Linked DNA regions of Homo sapiens: all the other regions are linked to region 2. The links come from fine-mapping of genetic effects on gene expression. A gene starts in region 2. Each other region holds a variant in brackets. All regions are shown on one strand. Distances are from middle to middle.

Region 1 (4,241 bases), 660 kb after region 2:
TTATGTTTCCCCTTCTAGGAAATGTCTTTTTGTCCTTTATATTTTTCTATTAGATTGTCTTTTTTTCTTCAGGTTTTTACAAGTTCTTTCAAAGAGACTTCCTATACTAGTCCTTGATGTCAAGACATTAGTCTGGTAGTAAGATGAATAAAATGAACTTATTTGTCAGGATAGATATTGTTGCCAACTTCAGTCAGGATAATTGGGACAGTGGCGAGTCTAAATTAAAATTTTTCTCTCTTCCTTTAACCATTAGGATTCACTTTAAGAGATTTGGAAACTCTTCCCTTTGGAATTGCTCTTCCCATCAGAGATGCAATTTATCACTGTCGTGAGCAGCCTGCCTCAGACTGGCCAGAAGCTGTCTGTCTCTTGATTGGACGTCAGGATCTTTCCAAGCAGGCCTGCGAAGGAAACTTACCCAAAGGGAAGTCTGTGAGTATCAACATAGAAAGTTCAGAGTTCCAATTTTAGCCTTAAATAAAATCATAAAGTAGAAATGTTCTTCATTTTCCTTTAAGGCTTTTTCTAAGTATATATATTAGCTTGTCTTTTATATTATATGCCAGACGGGGTTTGTAATTGTACGCGTCTTATTAATTGTTAAGATGAGCATTAGGAGCAGGAGATTTTGTGAATGTTCTGTCTTGTGCCTGGATCTTTCTTTGCCTTGAATCAGGACAAGTCCTGAGGGTAGTCATGGAAACTACCATGGCTATTTCCCTACTTGTACCATATTAGTAATTAACCACTTTGTAATTATTACATAGGAAAAGGGAGAGCACATATATCCTGAATTTGGATGAGTAATTATATATAAATATTTTCTACTGCATATTTTTTGATGTGTTGAATTTTTTGAATTTAACCTTTTAAATAGGTGTAAACATATTTGTTTAATCACATAAAACTGCAGCCCCAGGGAAAAAATGTGTTTTTTTCAGTAGAGTTGTTTAAAAACATGTCTTAAGCTATCCCTCCCGAAATACTGTCTTTCATCAATCATCAAGTCTGTTTTTTTTTTCAAATGAGTTCTAGGAATCCTGCAAGTAGAAAGTTAAATTATTTCATTACTCTCCAATTATCTTTTTAAATCATCCTCACCATGTTGGCCAGGCTGGTCTGGAACCCCTGGCCTCGGGTGATCCGCCCACCTCGGCCTCCCAAAGTGCTGGGATTACAGAGTGTGAGCCACCACACCCGGCCAGCAATATAGTACTTTTTAGAAAGATTTGTAGATTAGAGTCCCAGTATACATTGCGGCTCCAACCCATGCCTGCTTTGGAAAACATATTTTCTCTGTGCTAGTATAGTCAAGACACATCAGCCTATATATCCTCATGTTCAGCAAGTGCATGTTAACTGCTTTTGAAATTATTATTACAATAAAGTCTGTTACTCAGGTGCTCTCATCAGATGTTCCTTCAGGAACAGAAACTGAGGAGGAAGATGACGGCATGAATGACATGAATCACGAGGTCATGTCATTAATATGGAGTGAAGATTTAAGGGTGCAGGATGTGCGAAGGCTTCTTCAGAGTGCGCATCCTGTCCGTGTCAACGTAGTGCAGTACCCAGAGCTCAGTGACCACGAGTTCATCGAGGAAAAGGAAAACAGGTGAAAGAAAACACGTGCACTATCTCTTGTCATGTTTCATTGTTACATTTGTGTCTTGTGTATATTTGTTTTTCCTTCAAGTTTTTAGCATTTAAAACCCTAAAGAGATTTAAAAGATACTTTCAAGTGAAAATATGCCCTGTGTTTTAAGTTTTCATCCAACTTCAACAAACCACGTGTGTTAGCAAAATGTCTTTGGCTTTTGAGGACGTAATTGTTGTATTTCATATCGTCCTCCTCTTGAAATACATATAACACTTTACTCTTTAGAAAAGGTGAATGTAAAACTATTTTGCCTGATAGTTACCTTAAGAATTTACAAACAAAGAAAACACTGGACTTGTTTTTCTGTGTCTTGATCAGGAATAGATTTTGAGGTTAGTGGGGTTTTTAGTGTAGTTTAAACTTGTATGAGTATTTTTTTTTTTTGGATATGATAGATGATACTCCAAATAAAAATAGATAAGCCTTTCTTCTGCCACTCCCCTGCACAGGATACATCCCTTGATACATTATAAGACTCACATGCCTATGACATTCCAGAGCTATTCTCTTGGGACACTTCTGTTTTAAAATTCTCTCCTGTTCTTTTATCTGCTTGTCTCTATCATCTATCATTCATCTGCCACTGTTTTCTAGTTCTCTTTACTTTTTTTATGGTACTGTTTTGAGGGGAACCATCACCCACACTTAGCCACAGGCTGCTGAAGATCTGAATTAGTTGTGATTTCCCTATTAACTGTTTCCTCTCCACATGTACCCAGTTATTAGTCACCTGTGAATAAAAAGATGGAGTGACAGAAGTTGAGTTTAGAGCATAGGATTTATGAGCATGGCCTCTAGAGCCAGGCATGGCCAT[G/A]CTGTGCTGGGTGACTTTGGTTAAATTACTTTACCTCTTGTTGCCTCAGTTGCTTCATTTGTAAAAGTAGGCATACTTCATGGGATGGTGCTGTGTATCAAGTGAATTATTTTTACATAGCACTTAGAATACTGCTCAATACATAGTAAAGCTCAGTGCAGTCAGCCATTATTAGTAGTAGAGTTCATTGATTCTAAGATGCAAGTTTTTTCACTTTTTAATATCTCTGAAATCAGTTGTGTATTTCAGTGAACAGGTGTCATAGTTTAATTGGCAGTGCTTTTTCTTTCTTAGTTTCTCATGAAATAATGATACATCTTATCAGTGGCATCTTATATTCAGGGGATATAATATTGTTCTCATTATAATTTTGTTACTTGCGCAAAGTTGAAGTGAATTATGTGTAAGATTTCCTCTAAAAAAATTCTATGGGTTGCAACAGCCTCTTGGCTTTGAATTTTCCTGATCCCAAATTAATGTTGCGGTTGTGTTCCCAGAGAATCTTTAAGACAGCAAAATTTTTCTTTCCAGTTAGCTAGAAAAGCAGTTATGTGTGTCCAGTTAAGGAGGGAGTATGCTTATGAATAGCTTTGTCTGCAGAGAAAATGTTTGTCAGTTGTCAGCCTCTGAAGGGATATTTCTGTGTCTTCAGATATAGCTTGTATAGGCGTTTCTTAGTTATAAATGCCCTACTTCCAAAATTTCTGTTAGTTTTTTTTAAGTGGCTATATGGAATGTTAAGCTATTTTAACATAGGAAGAAGTTGAAGAGTGGTGTATTAATTTCACAGTAGAGCCAACAGAAACCATTTTAACCTTGAACATACCTGATACATAATGGTATTAGTCCTATAAATCTAGCCATCATGTAAGTGAAACCAATCTGTATTTCCCTTGGAGACACCATGAAATCCATTCACCTCTAACACAAGGACCTTGTTTCTTTTCTTGTGTACAGGCCACAGAAATGGTACTTCTGAGGCTGTATTGGCAAAAGGGATGGGAGGAGGATCCCACATGTACTGAGGACAGCTAGACTGAAATTAACACAGTGATAAAAACCCCAAAAGTACTGTATTTTCCTTTGAGAAGGTTAGCATCCATCGGAGTGGAATTTTAAATTTCTTTTTTTTTTTGAATGCCTAGAGAGAGTCGGCTGGGTTTATAGGCCAGGTGGTTTTCATTCAATGTAAATATGAAACAAAACAGAGGAAATATGTCTCTCCCTAAGAGTGTAATAGGAACAAGAATATTAAAATGAAAATAATCATGTTTGGGTAGTTCACTCACATCTGTGTATGAATTTACTTTGAGACAACTTCATCTTATACAGTACACCTTCTTTTGAAATACTTACAGATGATATTTCAATTGCTCTTTGCTTTAAACATTTTCATATGTTGGTTTTTACTTTAATTACAGATTGCTCCAATTGTGTCAGCGAACTATGGCTCTTCCTGTAGGACGAGGAATGTTTACCTTGTTTTCGTACCATCCTGTTCCAACAGAGCCATTGCCTATTCCTAAATTGAATCTGACTGGTATGTTAAATTCTGGGCTCAATGAGAAAGGAAAATGATTAAGTACATGCATTAAGTGTAGTTCTTTAAATTAGTTAAAACAAAAGAAATGCTCCCTCTATCCCCAGTGATTTAAAATTTTCCTAATAGCTGCTGTAGTGGTTATCAAAGCTCAAATGCCATGTGAAACTAAACTTTGAGAGAAGCAGAATATAGTTCATTACTCATTTTTGCTTTTTAATGAG
Region 2 (4,241 bases):
TCACTCCTAGGCTTAAGCACCAGGGTAATGCCAGTCACTCCTACCTCTGCCTGGGCGGAGCCATGTTTGTTGTTTTTAATGTTATGATTCCACCTAAGCTTTCACAGCTAGGCACTGCCAAGAATATAGAGGGAAGTCAGGAAGTCTGGAAGGGGAAGTGGACAATGCAAGGAACAAATAATTGTTCTCAACTATAAGCAATTCTTCCTCTCCTTTCAGATCATGAATTCTCTTTGCTAGGGTCTTCCTGACACCGGTTAACCAAAGGGAGCCTCCAGGCACAGTCTCCATATTCTAAGATTTCTGGGTGTTCAAATGGGTCCTTCCATGGAGTCACCATTCTACATCATAAACTTGTATACCAATGAAAAGTTGTCCCAGGTACTATTCAAAAGAAGAAAATCCAGCAACTTTACACTGCAGCTCTTCATTCCTCCAACGATTTGAGTTTTACACAGCCCCCTCCCAAAGGCTCTGTCTATGGAAGCTCATAAATGACCAGTCAATTCCAAATGGCCCGTATTCAGTTTTTACCCATTTGAATTCTGACCACACCTATTTCTAAAAACTGTTTTCTCTCCTGGACATAGAACATTGCTCTCTCTGGGTTGCCCTCCAAGGTAGAGGTGACTCTTCCTCCGTATCGATTCTCCCCTTGTCTTTGGAATACAATTGGCCCCCACCTCTGGTGAATTCTGGCAAGGAACATGGCTCCCCGGAGAGAAGATGCAATTCCCAGATGACTGTGCAGAGAGGGAGGCCATGAGACTATGCTCAGGTCAATAGGATGTGAGTTGAACCGATCTGGGCAACTTCTGGATGACATCACTTACAAAGGAGCCGCTAGTCCCCTCCTATCTCCTGCGCTTTCCTACCCGTGGACATGTGGGTATGGTGGTGCCCAGCCAGCTTCAACCATGTGGATGAAGGTAATTCCCTCGGGGAGAGCAGGGAAGACAGGGAGGGCGAACGCAGCCTCGTGTAAGATCTTAATCCAATGCAGAACTGCGAAAACACATTATTTGGTGAAACTAAGGAAAGGTTTATAATCAGACATCCCTCCACACTTCCCTGGGCTAGGGTCTCTTCTGCAGCTCCTGCTTTTGGAATCCGGGGGTCTTTTCCAAATCCTCTGATCGCTCCTCCGCGCCTTCGGGGGGCAGAAGCCTCAGGGGTTTCAACACCTACGGCTCCCCCGCCCGCGCCCACGCCAAGCAGGGAGAAATCCTCAGTGCAGACGAGCTGCAAAAGATGACTCCAGCCGCCCGCTCTGCGGAGCCGCGCCCAGCGCGGCGGACCCGCCAAATCTGGGGGCTTCGGCCCGGGGGAGCCGCTAGACTCGCGCCTCAGGTCCCAGCCCCGGCGGCCAGCGTCTCCCGGGCTGCAGGGACCGGTCACCGTCGGGAGGTAGCTGCGGCCCCGAGTGGCCGCACCGCGACTCCGACTCTAAATCCAAGTTAGGAGACAAGAAAGCATTAAAAACGACAGGTTTCGATCTTTCCGAATCCGTTTCTGATGTGCCCGACAAGCGACAGAGGAGAAAATGTATGACCTTTAAAAACAAAAGCGCCGGTTCTAACGGGCCGCGGGAGGCGCGCAGGGCCGCTCCGAGGAGGGCAGACGGGAATCGGGGAGGGGCTCACCCAGTCTCCCGAAGGGCAGCCGATTCCTCTCTCCCAGCATCAGGTTGAATCTGGGGTTGTCTCGCCGCAGCCTCTTCCAGTGGCCGGTGGCGAGGAGCAGCCGGGAGACCTCGGCGTAGACGCTGCTGTTCTCATCGCGTACCACGAAGGTGTACATGGCGAAGCGCCGCGCGCCCGGGCCGCCGGGCAGCCGCCGCAGGGACCAGGCGGCCGAGAAGGCGGCTCAGCGCGGACCCCGCCCGGGCGCCCGCCGCGGCCCGGCCCCCGCCGCCCGCGCCGGCTACCGCGCCTCTCGGGTGCCGGCGGCGCCGCGCCCGGGCGCCCGCCGGGTGCCGGAGAGGAAAGCGCCGCTCGCACGCCCGCCCCCGCCGGCGCGGCCCCGCCTCTGTCCCGTGATTCCGCGCGGCCCGGCCCCGCCGCGCTCTGGAGGAGCCCGTGGGCGGCGGCGCCGCGCCCTTTCCGTACCCTCCCCCGGGGGCGGCGGCGGCGCAGGGTTGGAGACCCGCGGCGGTGGGCGCGGCTTTACCGCAGCGGGCGGACTGTGCGGTGGAACCGGAGCCCGGGCCTGGGGTGGTTCTTTCCGAGCCCCGGGTCGCAGCCGGGGGGCGGTGCCGGCGGAAGATCCCAGTTTGCAGGGCTCGATCTGGGTTTTTCTTCTATTGCCAAAGGACCTTTAATGGATAAAACCCAAAAGTTCTAAGGCCCGGTCCTGTGGCCTAATGAAGAAGCGCTTCCTCTTCCTCTTTGCTTAACGACTACGGAGACCCGGAGCGTCGGTTTTGTTTGTGTCGAGTGCTCCTTCCTTCGGCTGAGCCCAGGGTGGCGCACGGCCAAGGGGATGACCTTAGACTCTGCTGGTGGAAGCAGGTCCCAAACCGACCCCCTGGAGCCCTGGGCTCCGCTCTTTTCCTGCCTTTTACCGGCATTCAGCCACTTGCTTTCCCTTCTCCGGACCTCGATTTCCCCTTATGAGCGGCGGAGAGTGGCTCTTAAAAGTCCCTTCGGTTCTGATAGCCCACTCTGAAGACTGTGCTGCTGCATTTGAGATACAAAGAGAAGGCAATGATCATCAGAGCTCCCCCAAACTTCCTACAGTCCCTCATAAATTACCCACATCAGCCCTGCGCCTTGCATCTTTTACTCTCCTGTAGATAAAGAACACCCTGGGGCCTCTCCCCTTCCTGTCCCCCGATGCTCACGGTATCTACCCGAGCACATTGTAAAAGCGCCCTTCTCCTTCCCATCGTTGCCCAGATTCCACGGGGCCGCCAGGCGCTCACTCGCCTGTCTTGCGCACCGGCTCCACCTGCAGGCAACCGCTGGCTGTGGAGAGCCCGCTCAGAGCAGAAATGGGGCAGACTTAGAGGTGCTGGGTGCTTGCACTCCTTCCCAGCTGCTCTCCCTCCACGAGGGATAGAGTTGGTCGAGAATGCCCTGGCCCTCTCGCCCTCCGCACGTGCCCTGCGGGGAGGCGTGTGTCCTAGGCGTATTGCGGTGGTCCTCTGTAGGCCACGGCTGCGGTTGTCCACAGCTGCAACTTGCTCATCAGGGCATCTTCTGTTGGCTTCCTTCCTTTCCCTGACTACCGATGTTTCCTGGGATCACCTCCCAAAAAAACTACTGTACTCGTGCTCAAATTCTTGTTCCAGGGGGCACCGTTTGGGGGAACTCGAGCCAAGACGCTGTGTTTGCCGCTCTTCACGGCTGATCACCTTGAAAGTGACGTCCACTCCCACCATGCTGCATCAATTCCTCCTGCGACTCCTACTGACGACTCCTGTGCCACAGGTGGCTTCTCTCTGCCACTCCACAACCGTGGATCTCATTAGGAACACCAGTGACCTTTGAATTTCCAAATCCAGAAGCTACCTTTTTCCTTTTTCTCACTTTTTGTAGCGAGCACCATTTTTGTTTCTTTTAGCTGTAGGTTCTGTACGGTACTACTTATTCCCCACCCCACTTTTTTTTGAGACAGGGTCTCACCATATTGCCCAGGCTGGTCTCGAACTCCTCAACTCAAGCCATCCTCCCACCTCAGCCTCCCAAACTGTTGGGATTACAGGCGTGAGCCACCACACCCAGCTTATTCCCTTTTCTTTGTAAGGTAACTCATCTTTCCTCCTTGGAACGTGTGTGTGTGTGTGTGTGTGTGTGTGTGTGTGTGTCTGTTAGGGAGTCTTGCACTGTCGCCCAGGCTGGAGTGCAATGGCGTGATCTCAGCTCACGGCAACTTCCACCTCCGGGTTTCAAGAGATTCTCCTGCCTCACCCTCCTGAGTAGCTGGGACTACAGGCACAGGCCACTATGCCTGGCTACTTTTTATATTTTTGGTAGAGACAGGGTTTCACCATATTGGCCAGACTGATCTCCCAACTCCTGACCTCAAGTGATCTGCCCGCCTTGGTCTCCCAAAGTGCTGGGATTACAGGCATGAGCCGCAGCGCCTGACCCCCTTGGAACCCATTTTTTGTGGCTCTTGTGGGATTAACAGTGTCTGTTATTGATAAAGGAAATGAATATCCAGGCTTGGTCCAACAGGATTACTCTCTATCCCTTTTGCCACAGCGACTGGTAAAACGTAGGAAACTGGTCCAAATC
Region 3 (4,241 bases), 43 kb before region 2:
ACAGAAATTATAACAAACTGTCTCCCAGACCACAGTGCAATCAAACTAGAAATCAGGATTAAGAAACTCACTCAAAACCGCTCAACTACATGGAAACAGAACAACCTGCTCCTGAATAACTACTGGGTACATAACGAAGTGAAGGCAGAAATAAAGATGTTCTTTGAAACCAATGAGAACAAAGCCACAACATACCAGAATCTCTGGGACACATTTAAAGCAGTGGGTAGACAGAAATTTATAGCACTAAATGCCCACAAGAGAAAGCAGGAAAGATCTAAAATTGATACCCTAACTTCACAATTAAAAGAACTAGAGAAGCAAGAGCAAACACATTCAAAAGCTAGCAGAAGGCAAGAAATAACTAAGATCAGAGCAGAACTGAAGGAGATAGAGACACAAAAAACCCTTCAAAAAATCAATGAATCCAGGAGCTGGTTTTTTGAAAAGATCAACAAAACTGATAGACCGCTAGCAAGACTAATAAAGAAGAAAAGAGAGAAGAATCAAATAGACGCAATAAAAAATGATAAAGGGGTTATCACCACTGATCCCACAGAAAGACAAACTACCATCAGAAAATACTATAAACACCTCTACACAAATAAACTAGAAAATCTAGAAGAAATGGATAAATTCCTGGACACATACACCCTCCCAAGACTAAACAAGGAAGAAGTTGAATCCCTGAATAGACCAATAACTGGCTCTGAAATTGAGGCAATAATTAATAGCCTACCAACCAAAAAAAGTCCAGGACCAGATGGATTCACAGCCAAATTCTACCAGAGGTACAAAGAGGAGCTGGTACCATTCCTTCTGAAACTATTCCAATCAACAGAAAAAGAGGGACTCCTCCCTAACTCATTTTATGAGGCCAGCATCATCCTGACACCAAAGCCTGGCAGAGACACAACAAAAAAAAGACAATTTTAGACCAATATCCCTGATGAACATCGATGCAAAAATCCTCAACAAAATACTGGCAAACTAAATCCAGCAGCACATCAAAAAGCTTATCCACCATGATCAAGTGGGCTTCATCCCTGGGATGCAAGGCTGGTTCAACATATGCAAATCAATAAACGTAATCCATCATATAAACAGAACCAAAGACAAAAACCACATGATTATCTCAATAGATGCAGAAAAGGCCTTTGACAAAATTCAACAACCTTCATGCTAAAAACTCTCAATAAACTAGGTATTGATGGGACATATCTCAAAATAATAAGAGCTATCTATGACAAACCCACAGCCAATATCATACTGAATGGGCAAAAACTGGAAGCATTCCCTTTGAAAACTGGCACAAGACAGGGATGCCCTCTCTCACCACTCCTATTCAACATAGTGTTGGAAGTTCTGGCCAGGGCAATCAGGCAGGAGAAAGAAATAAAGGGTATTCAATTAGGAAAAAAGGAAGTCAAATTGTCCCTGTTTGCCGATGACATGATTGTATATTTAGAAAACCCCATCATCTCAGCCCAAAATCTCCTTAAGCTGATAAGCAACTTCAGCAAAGTCTCAGGATACAAAATTGATGTGCAAAAATCACAAGCATTCCTATAAACCAATAACAGACAAACAGCCAAATCATGAGTGAACTCCCATTCACAACTGCTTCAGAGAGAATAAAATACCAATAATCCAACTTACAAGGGATGTAAAGGACCTCTTCAAGGAGAACTACAAACCGCTGCTCAACGAAATAAAAGAGGACACAAACAAATGGAAGACCATTCCATGCTCATGGATAGGAAGAATCAATGTTGTGAAAATGGCCATACTACCCAAGGTAATTTATAGATTCAATGCCATCCCCATCAAGCTACCAATGACTTTCTTCACAGAATTGGAAAAAACTACTTTAAAGTTCATATGGAACCAAAAAAGAGCCC[G/A]CATTGCCAAGACAATCCTAAGCCAAAAGAACAAAGCTGGAGGCATCACCCTACCTGACTTCAAACTATACTACAAGGCTACAGTAACCAAAACAGCATGGTACTGGTACCAAAACAGAGATATAGACCAATGGAACAGAACAGAGCCCTCAGAAATAATGTCACACATCTACAACCACCTGATGTTTGACAAACCTGATAAAAACAAGAAATGAGGAAAGGATTCCCTATTTAATAAATGGTGCTGGGAAAACTGGCTAGCCATACATAGAAAGCTGAAACTGGATCCCTTCCTTACACCTTATACAAAAATTAATTCAGGACGCATTAATGACTTAAATGTTAGATGTAAAACCATAAAAACCCTAGAAGAAAACCTAGGCAATACCATTCAGGACATAGGCATGGGAAAGGACTTCATGTCTAAAACACCAAAAGCAATGGCAACAAAAGCAAAAATTGACAAATGGGATCTAATTAAACTAAAGAGCTTCTGCACAGCAAAAGAAACTACCATCAGCAAACAGGCAACCTACAGAATGGGAGAAAATTTTTACAATCTACCCATCTGACAAAGGGCTGATATCCAGAATCTACAAAGAACTTAAACAAATTTACAAGAAAAAATCAAACAACCCCATCAAAAAGTGGGCAAAGGATATGAACAGACGCTTCTCAAAAGAAGACATTTATGCAGCCAAAAGACACATGAAAAAATGCTCATCACTGGCCATCAGAGAAATGCAAATCAAAACCACAATGAGATACCATCTCACACCAGTTAGAATGGTGATCATTAAAAAGTCAGGAAGCAACAGGTGCTGGAGAGGATGTGGAGAAATAGGAACACTTTTACACTGTTGGTGGGGCTGTAAACTAGTTCAACCATTGCAGAAGACAGTGTGGCGATTCCTCAACGATCTAGAACTAGAAATACCATTTGACCCAGCCATCCCATTACTGGGTATATACCCAAAGGATTATAAATCATGCTGCTATAAAGACACATGCACATGTATGTTTATTGTAGCACTATTCACAATAGCAAAGACTTGGAACCAACCCAAATGTCCATCAATGATAGACTGGATTAAGAAAATGTGGCACATATATACCATGGAATACTATGCAGCCATAAGAAAGGACGAGTTCATGTCCTTTGTAGGGACATGGATGAAGCTGGAAACCATCATTCTGAGCAAACTATCACAGGGATAGAAAACAAAACACTGCATGTTCTCACTCATAGGTGGGAACTGAACAATGAGACCACTTGGACGTAGGATGGGGAACATCACACACCAGGGCCTGTTGTGGGGTTGGGGGATGGGGGAAGGATAACATTAGGAGTTATACCTAATGTAAATGATGAGTTAATGGGTACAGCACACCAACATGGCACATGTATACATATGTAACAAACCTACACATTGTGCACATGTACCCTAGAACTTAAAGTATAATAATAACAAAATGTCAAAAAAATAAAGAAAAAAAAAAACTGGTTGCCACTGTATATACAGATGCTTCAGAAGCCTTTGCACGAAGATAAAGCATTCCCTCAGCAAATACTTATGGAAGGCCTTGCAGGTGAACAAGGCACACAACTGGCAGGGAAGGCAGGCATTTCAAGAGCATGTAAGAGCCACCTTGCATTACAGACAGGGGCAGGCCCTACCCAGGAAAAGGACCAACTCAGCATAATTGAAGGGACACTGGAGAAGACTCCCCAGTGACACGGGAAGACTCCCCAGTGACAGAGGAAGACTCCCCAGTGACAGAGGAAGACTCCCCAGTGACAGGGGAAGACTTTCCAGTGGCAGCTAAGCCAAGACCCAATGAATAGAAGGCAGACAGAGAATGGATGACAGGGTAGAAATAAAGAAGAAGGGGCGGATACACACACACACACACACACACAGACACACACACACCCACAGACAGTTTCTTCTGATGAGTTAATCTGATGGCAGTTAGTGCAATGAAGGAAACTGCAAAGGCTCTGCCTAGAGAAAATCAGAGCTAGGACTGTTCAGAGAAAGCTTCCTCAAGATGTTTTGGTAAAGAAGAAGCCAGCCACGGTAAGGCTGGTGGTGGTGGTGGTAATGGTGGTGGGGATTCCACACACAGGTAACAGAAAGCACAAAGGCCCACTGCAGATAAGAGCAATCAAGGGAAATGGTGACTTGGGATGAAGCTGGAGAGGTGGGTAAGGCAGCGGCCTTGGAGGTGGAGGGAGGAGTCTGGTTTGTGTCCTAGGTGCAATGGCAAGTCTGGAGAATGGCATGGTCTGGTGTCGACTTTACACACTGGCTGCTCTGGGAGGATGGATTTCACTGG

Evidence for each region. PIP is the estimated chance that this variant, and not a neighbour inherited with it, causes the effect.
Region 1: its variant is the best candidate, but not a certain one, in a credible set for the expression of TTL in gastroesophageal junction (GTEx, PIP 0.89).
Region 3: its variant is the best candidate, but not a certain one, in a credible set for the expression of TTL in whole blood (INTERVAL, PIP 0.60).

The regions. Positions count from the first base shown.
Region 1 is chr2:111,818,616-111,822,856 of GRCh38, reverse strand. It overlaps ANAPC1 (anaphase promoting complex subunit 1), which reads left to right. Exons shown (of 48, transcript NM_022662.4): 25 at 257-435; 26 at 1,404-1,618; 27 at 3,899-4,017. Among named protein-coding and RNA genes, the nearest start is that of MIR4771-2, 50 kb to the right of the region's middle. The variant G/A (reference allele first, on the strand shown) is at 2,478.
Region 2 is chr2:112,479,904-112,484,144 of GRCh38, reverse strand. It overlaps TTL (tubulin tyrosine ligase), which reads right to left and starts at 1,989. Exons shown (of 7, transcript NM_153712.5): 1 at 1,644-1,989. The coding sequence starts at 1,800. RefSeq lists silencers at 1,219-1,318, 1,879-2,268 and an enhancer at 2,589-2,658.
Region 3 is chr2:112,522,932-112,527,172 of GRCh38, reverse strand. The region is part of intron 6 of TTL (tubulin tyrosine ligase); the gene reads right to left. Among named protein-coding and RNA genes, the nearest start is that of POLR1B, 17 kb to the left of the region's middle. The variant G/A (reference allele first, on the strand shown) is at 1,902.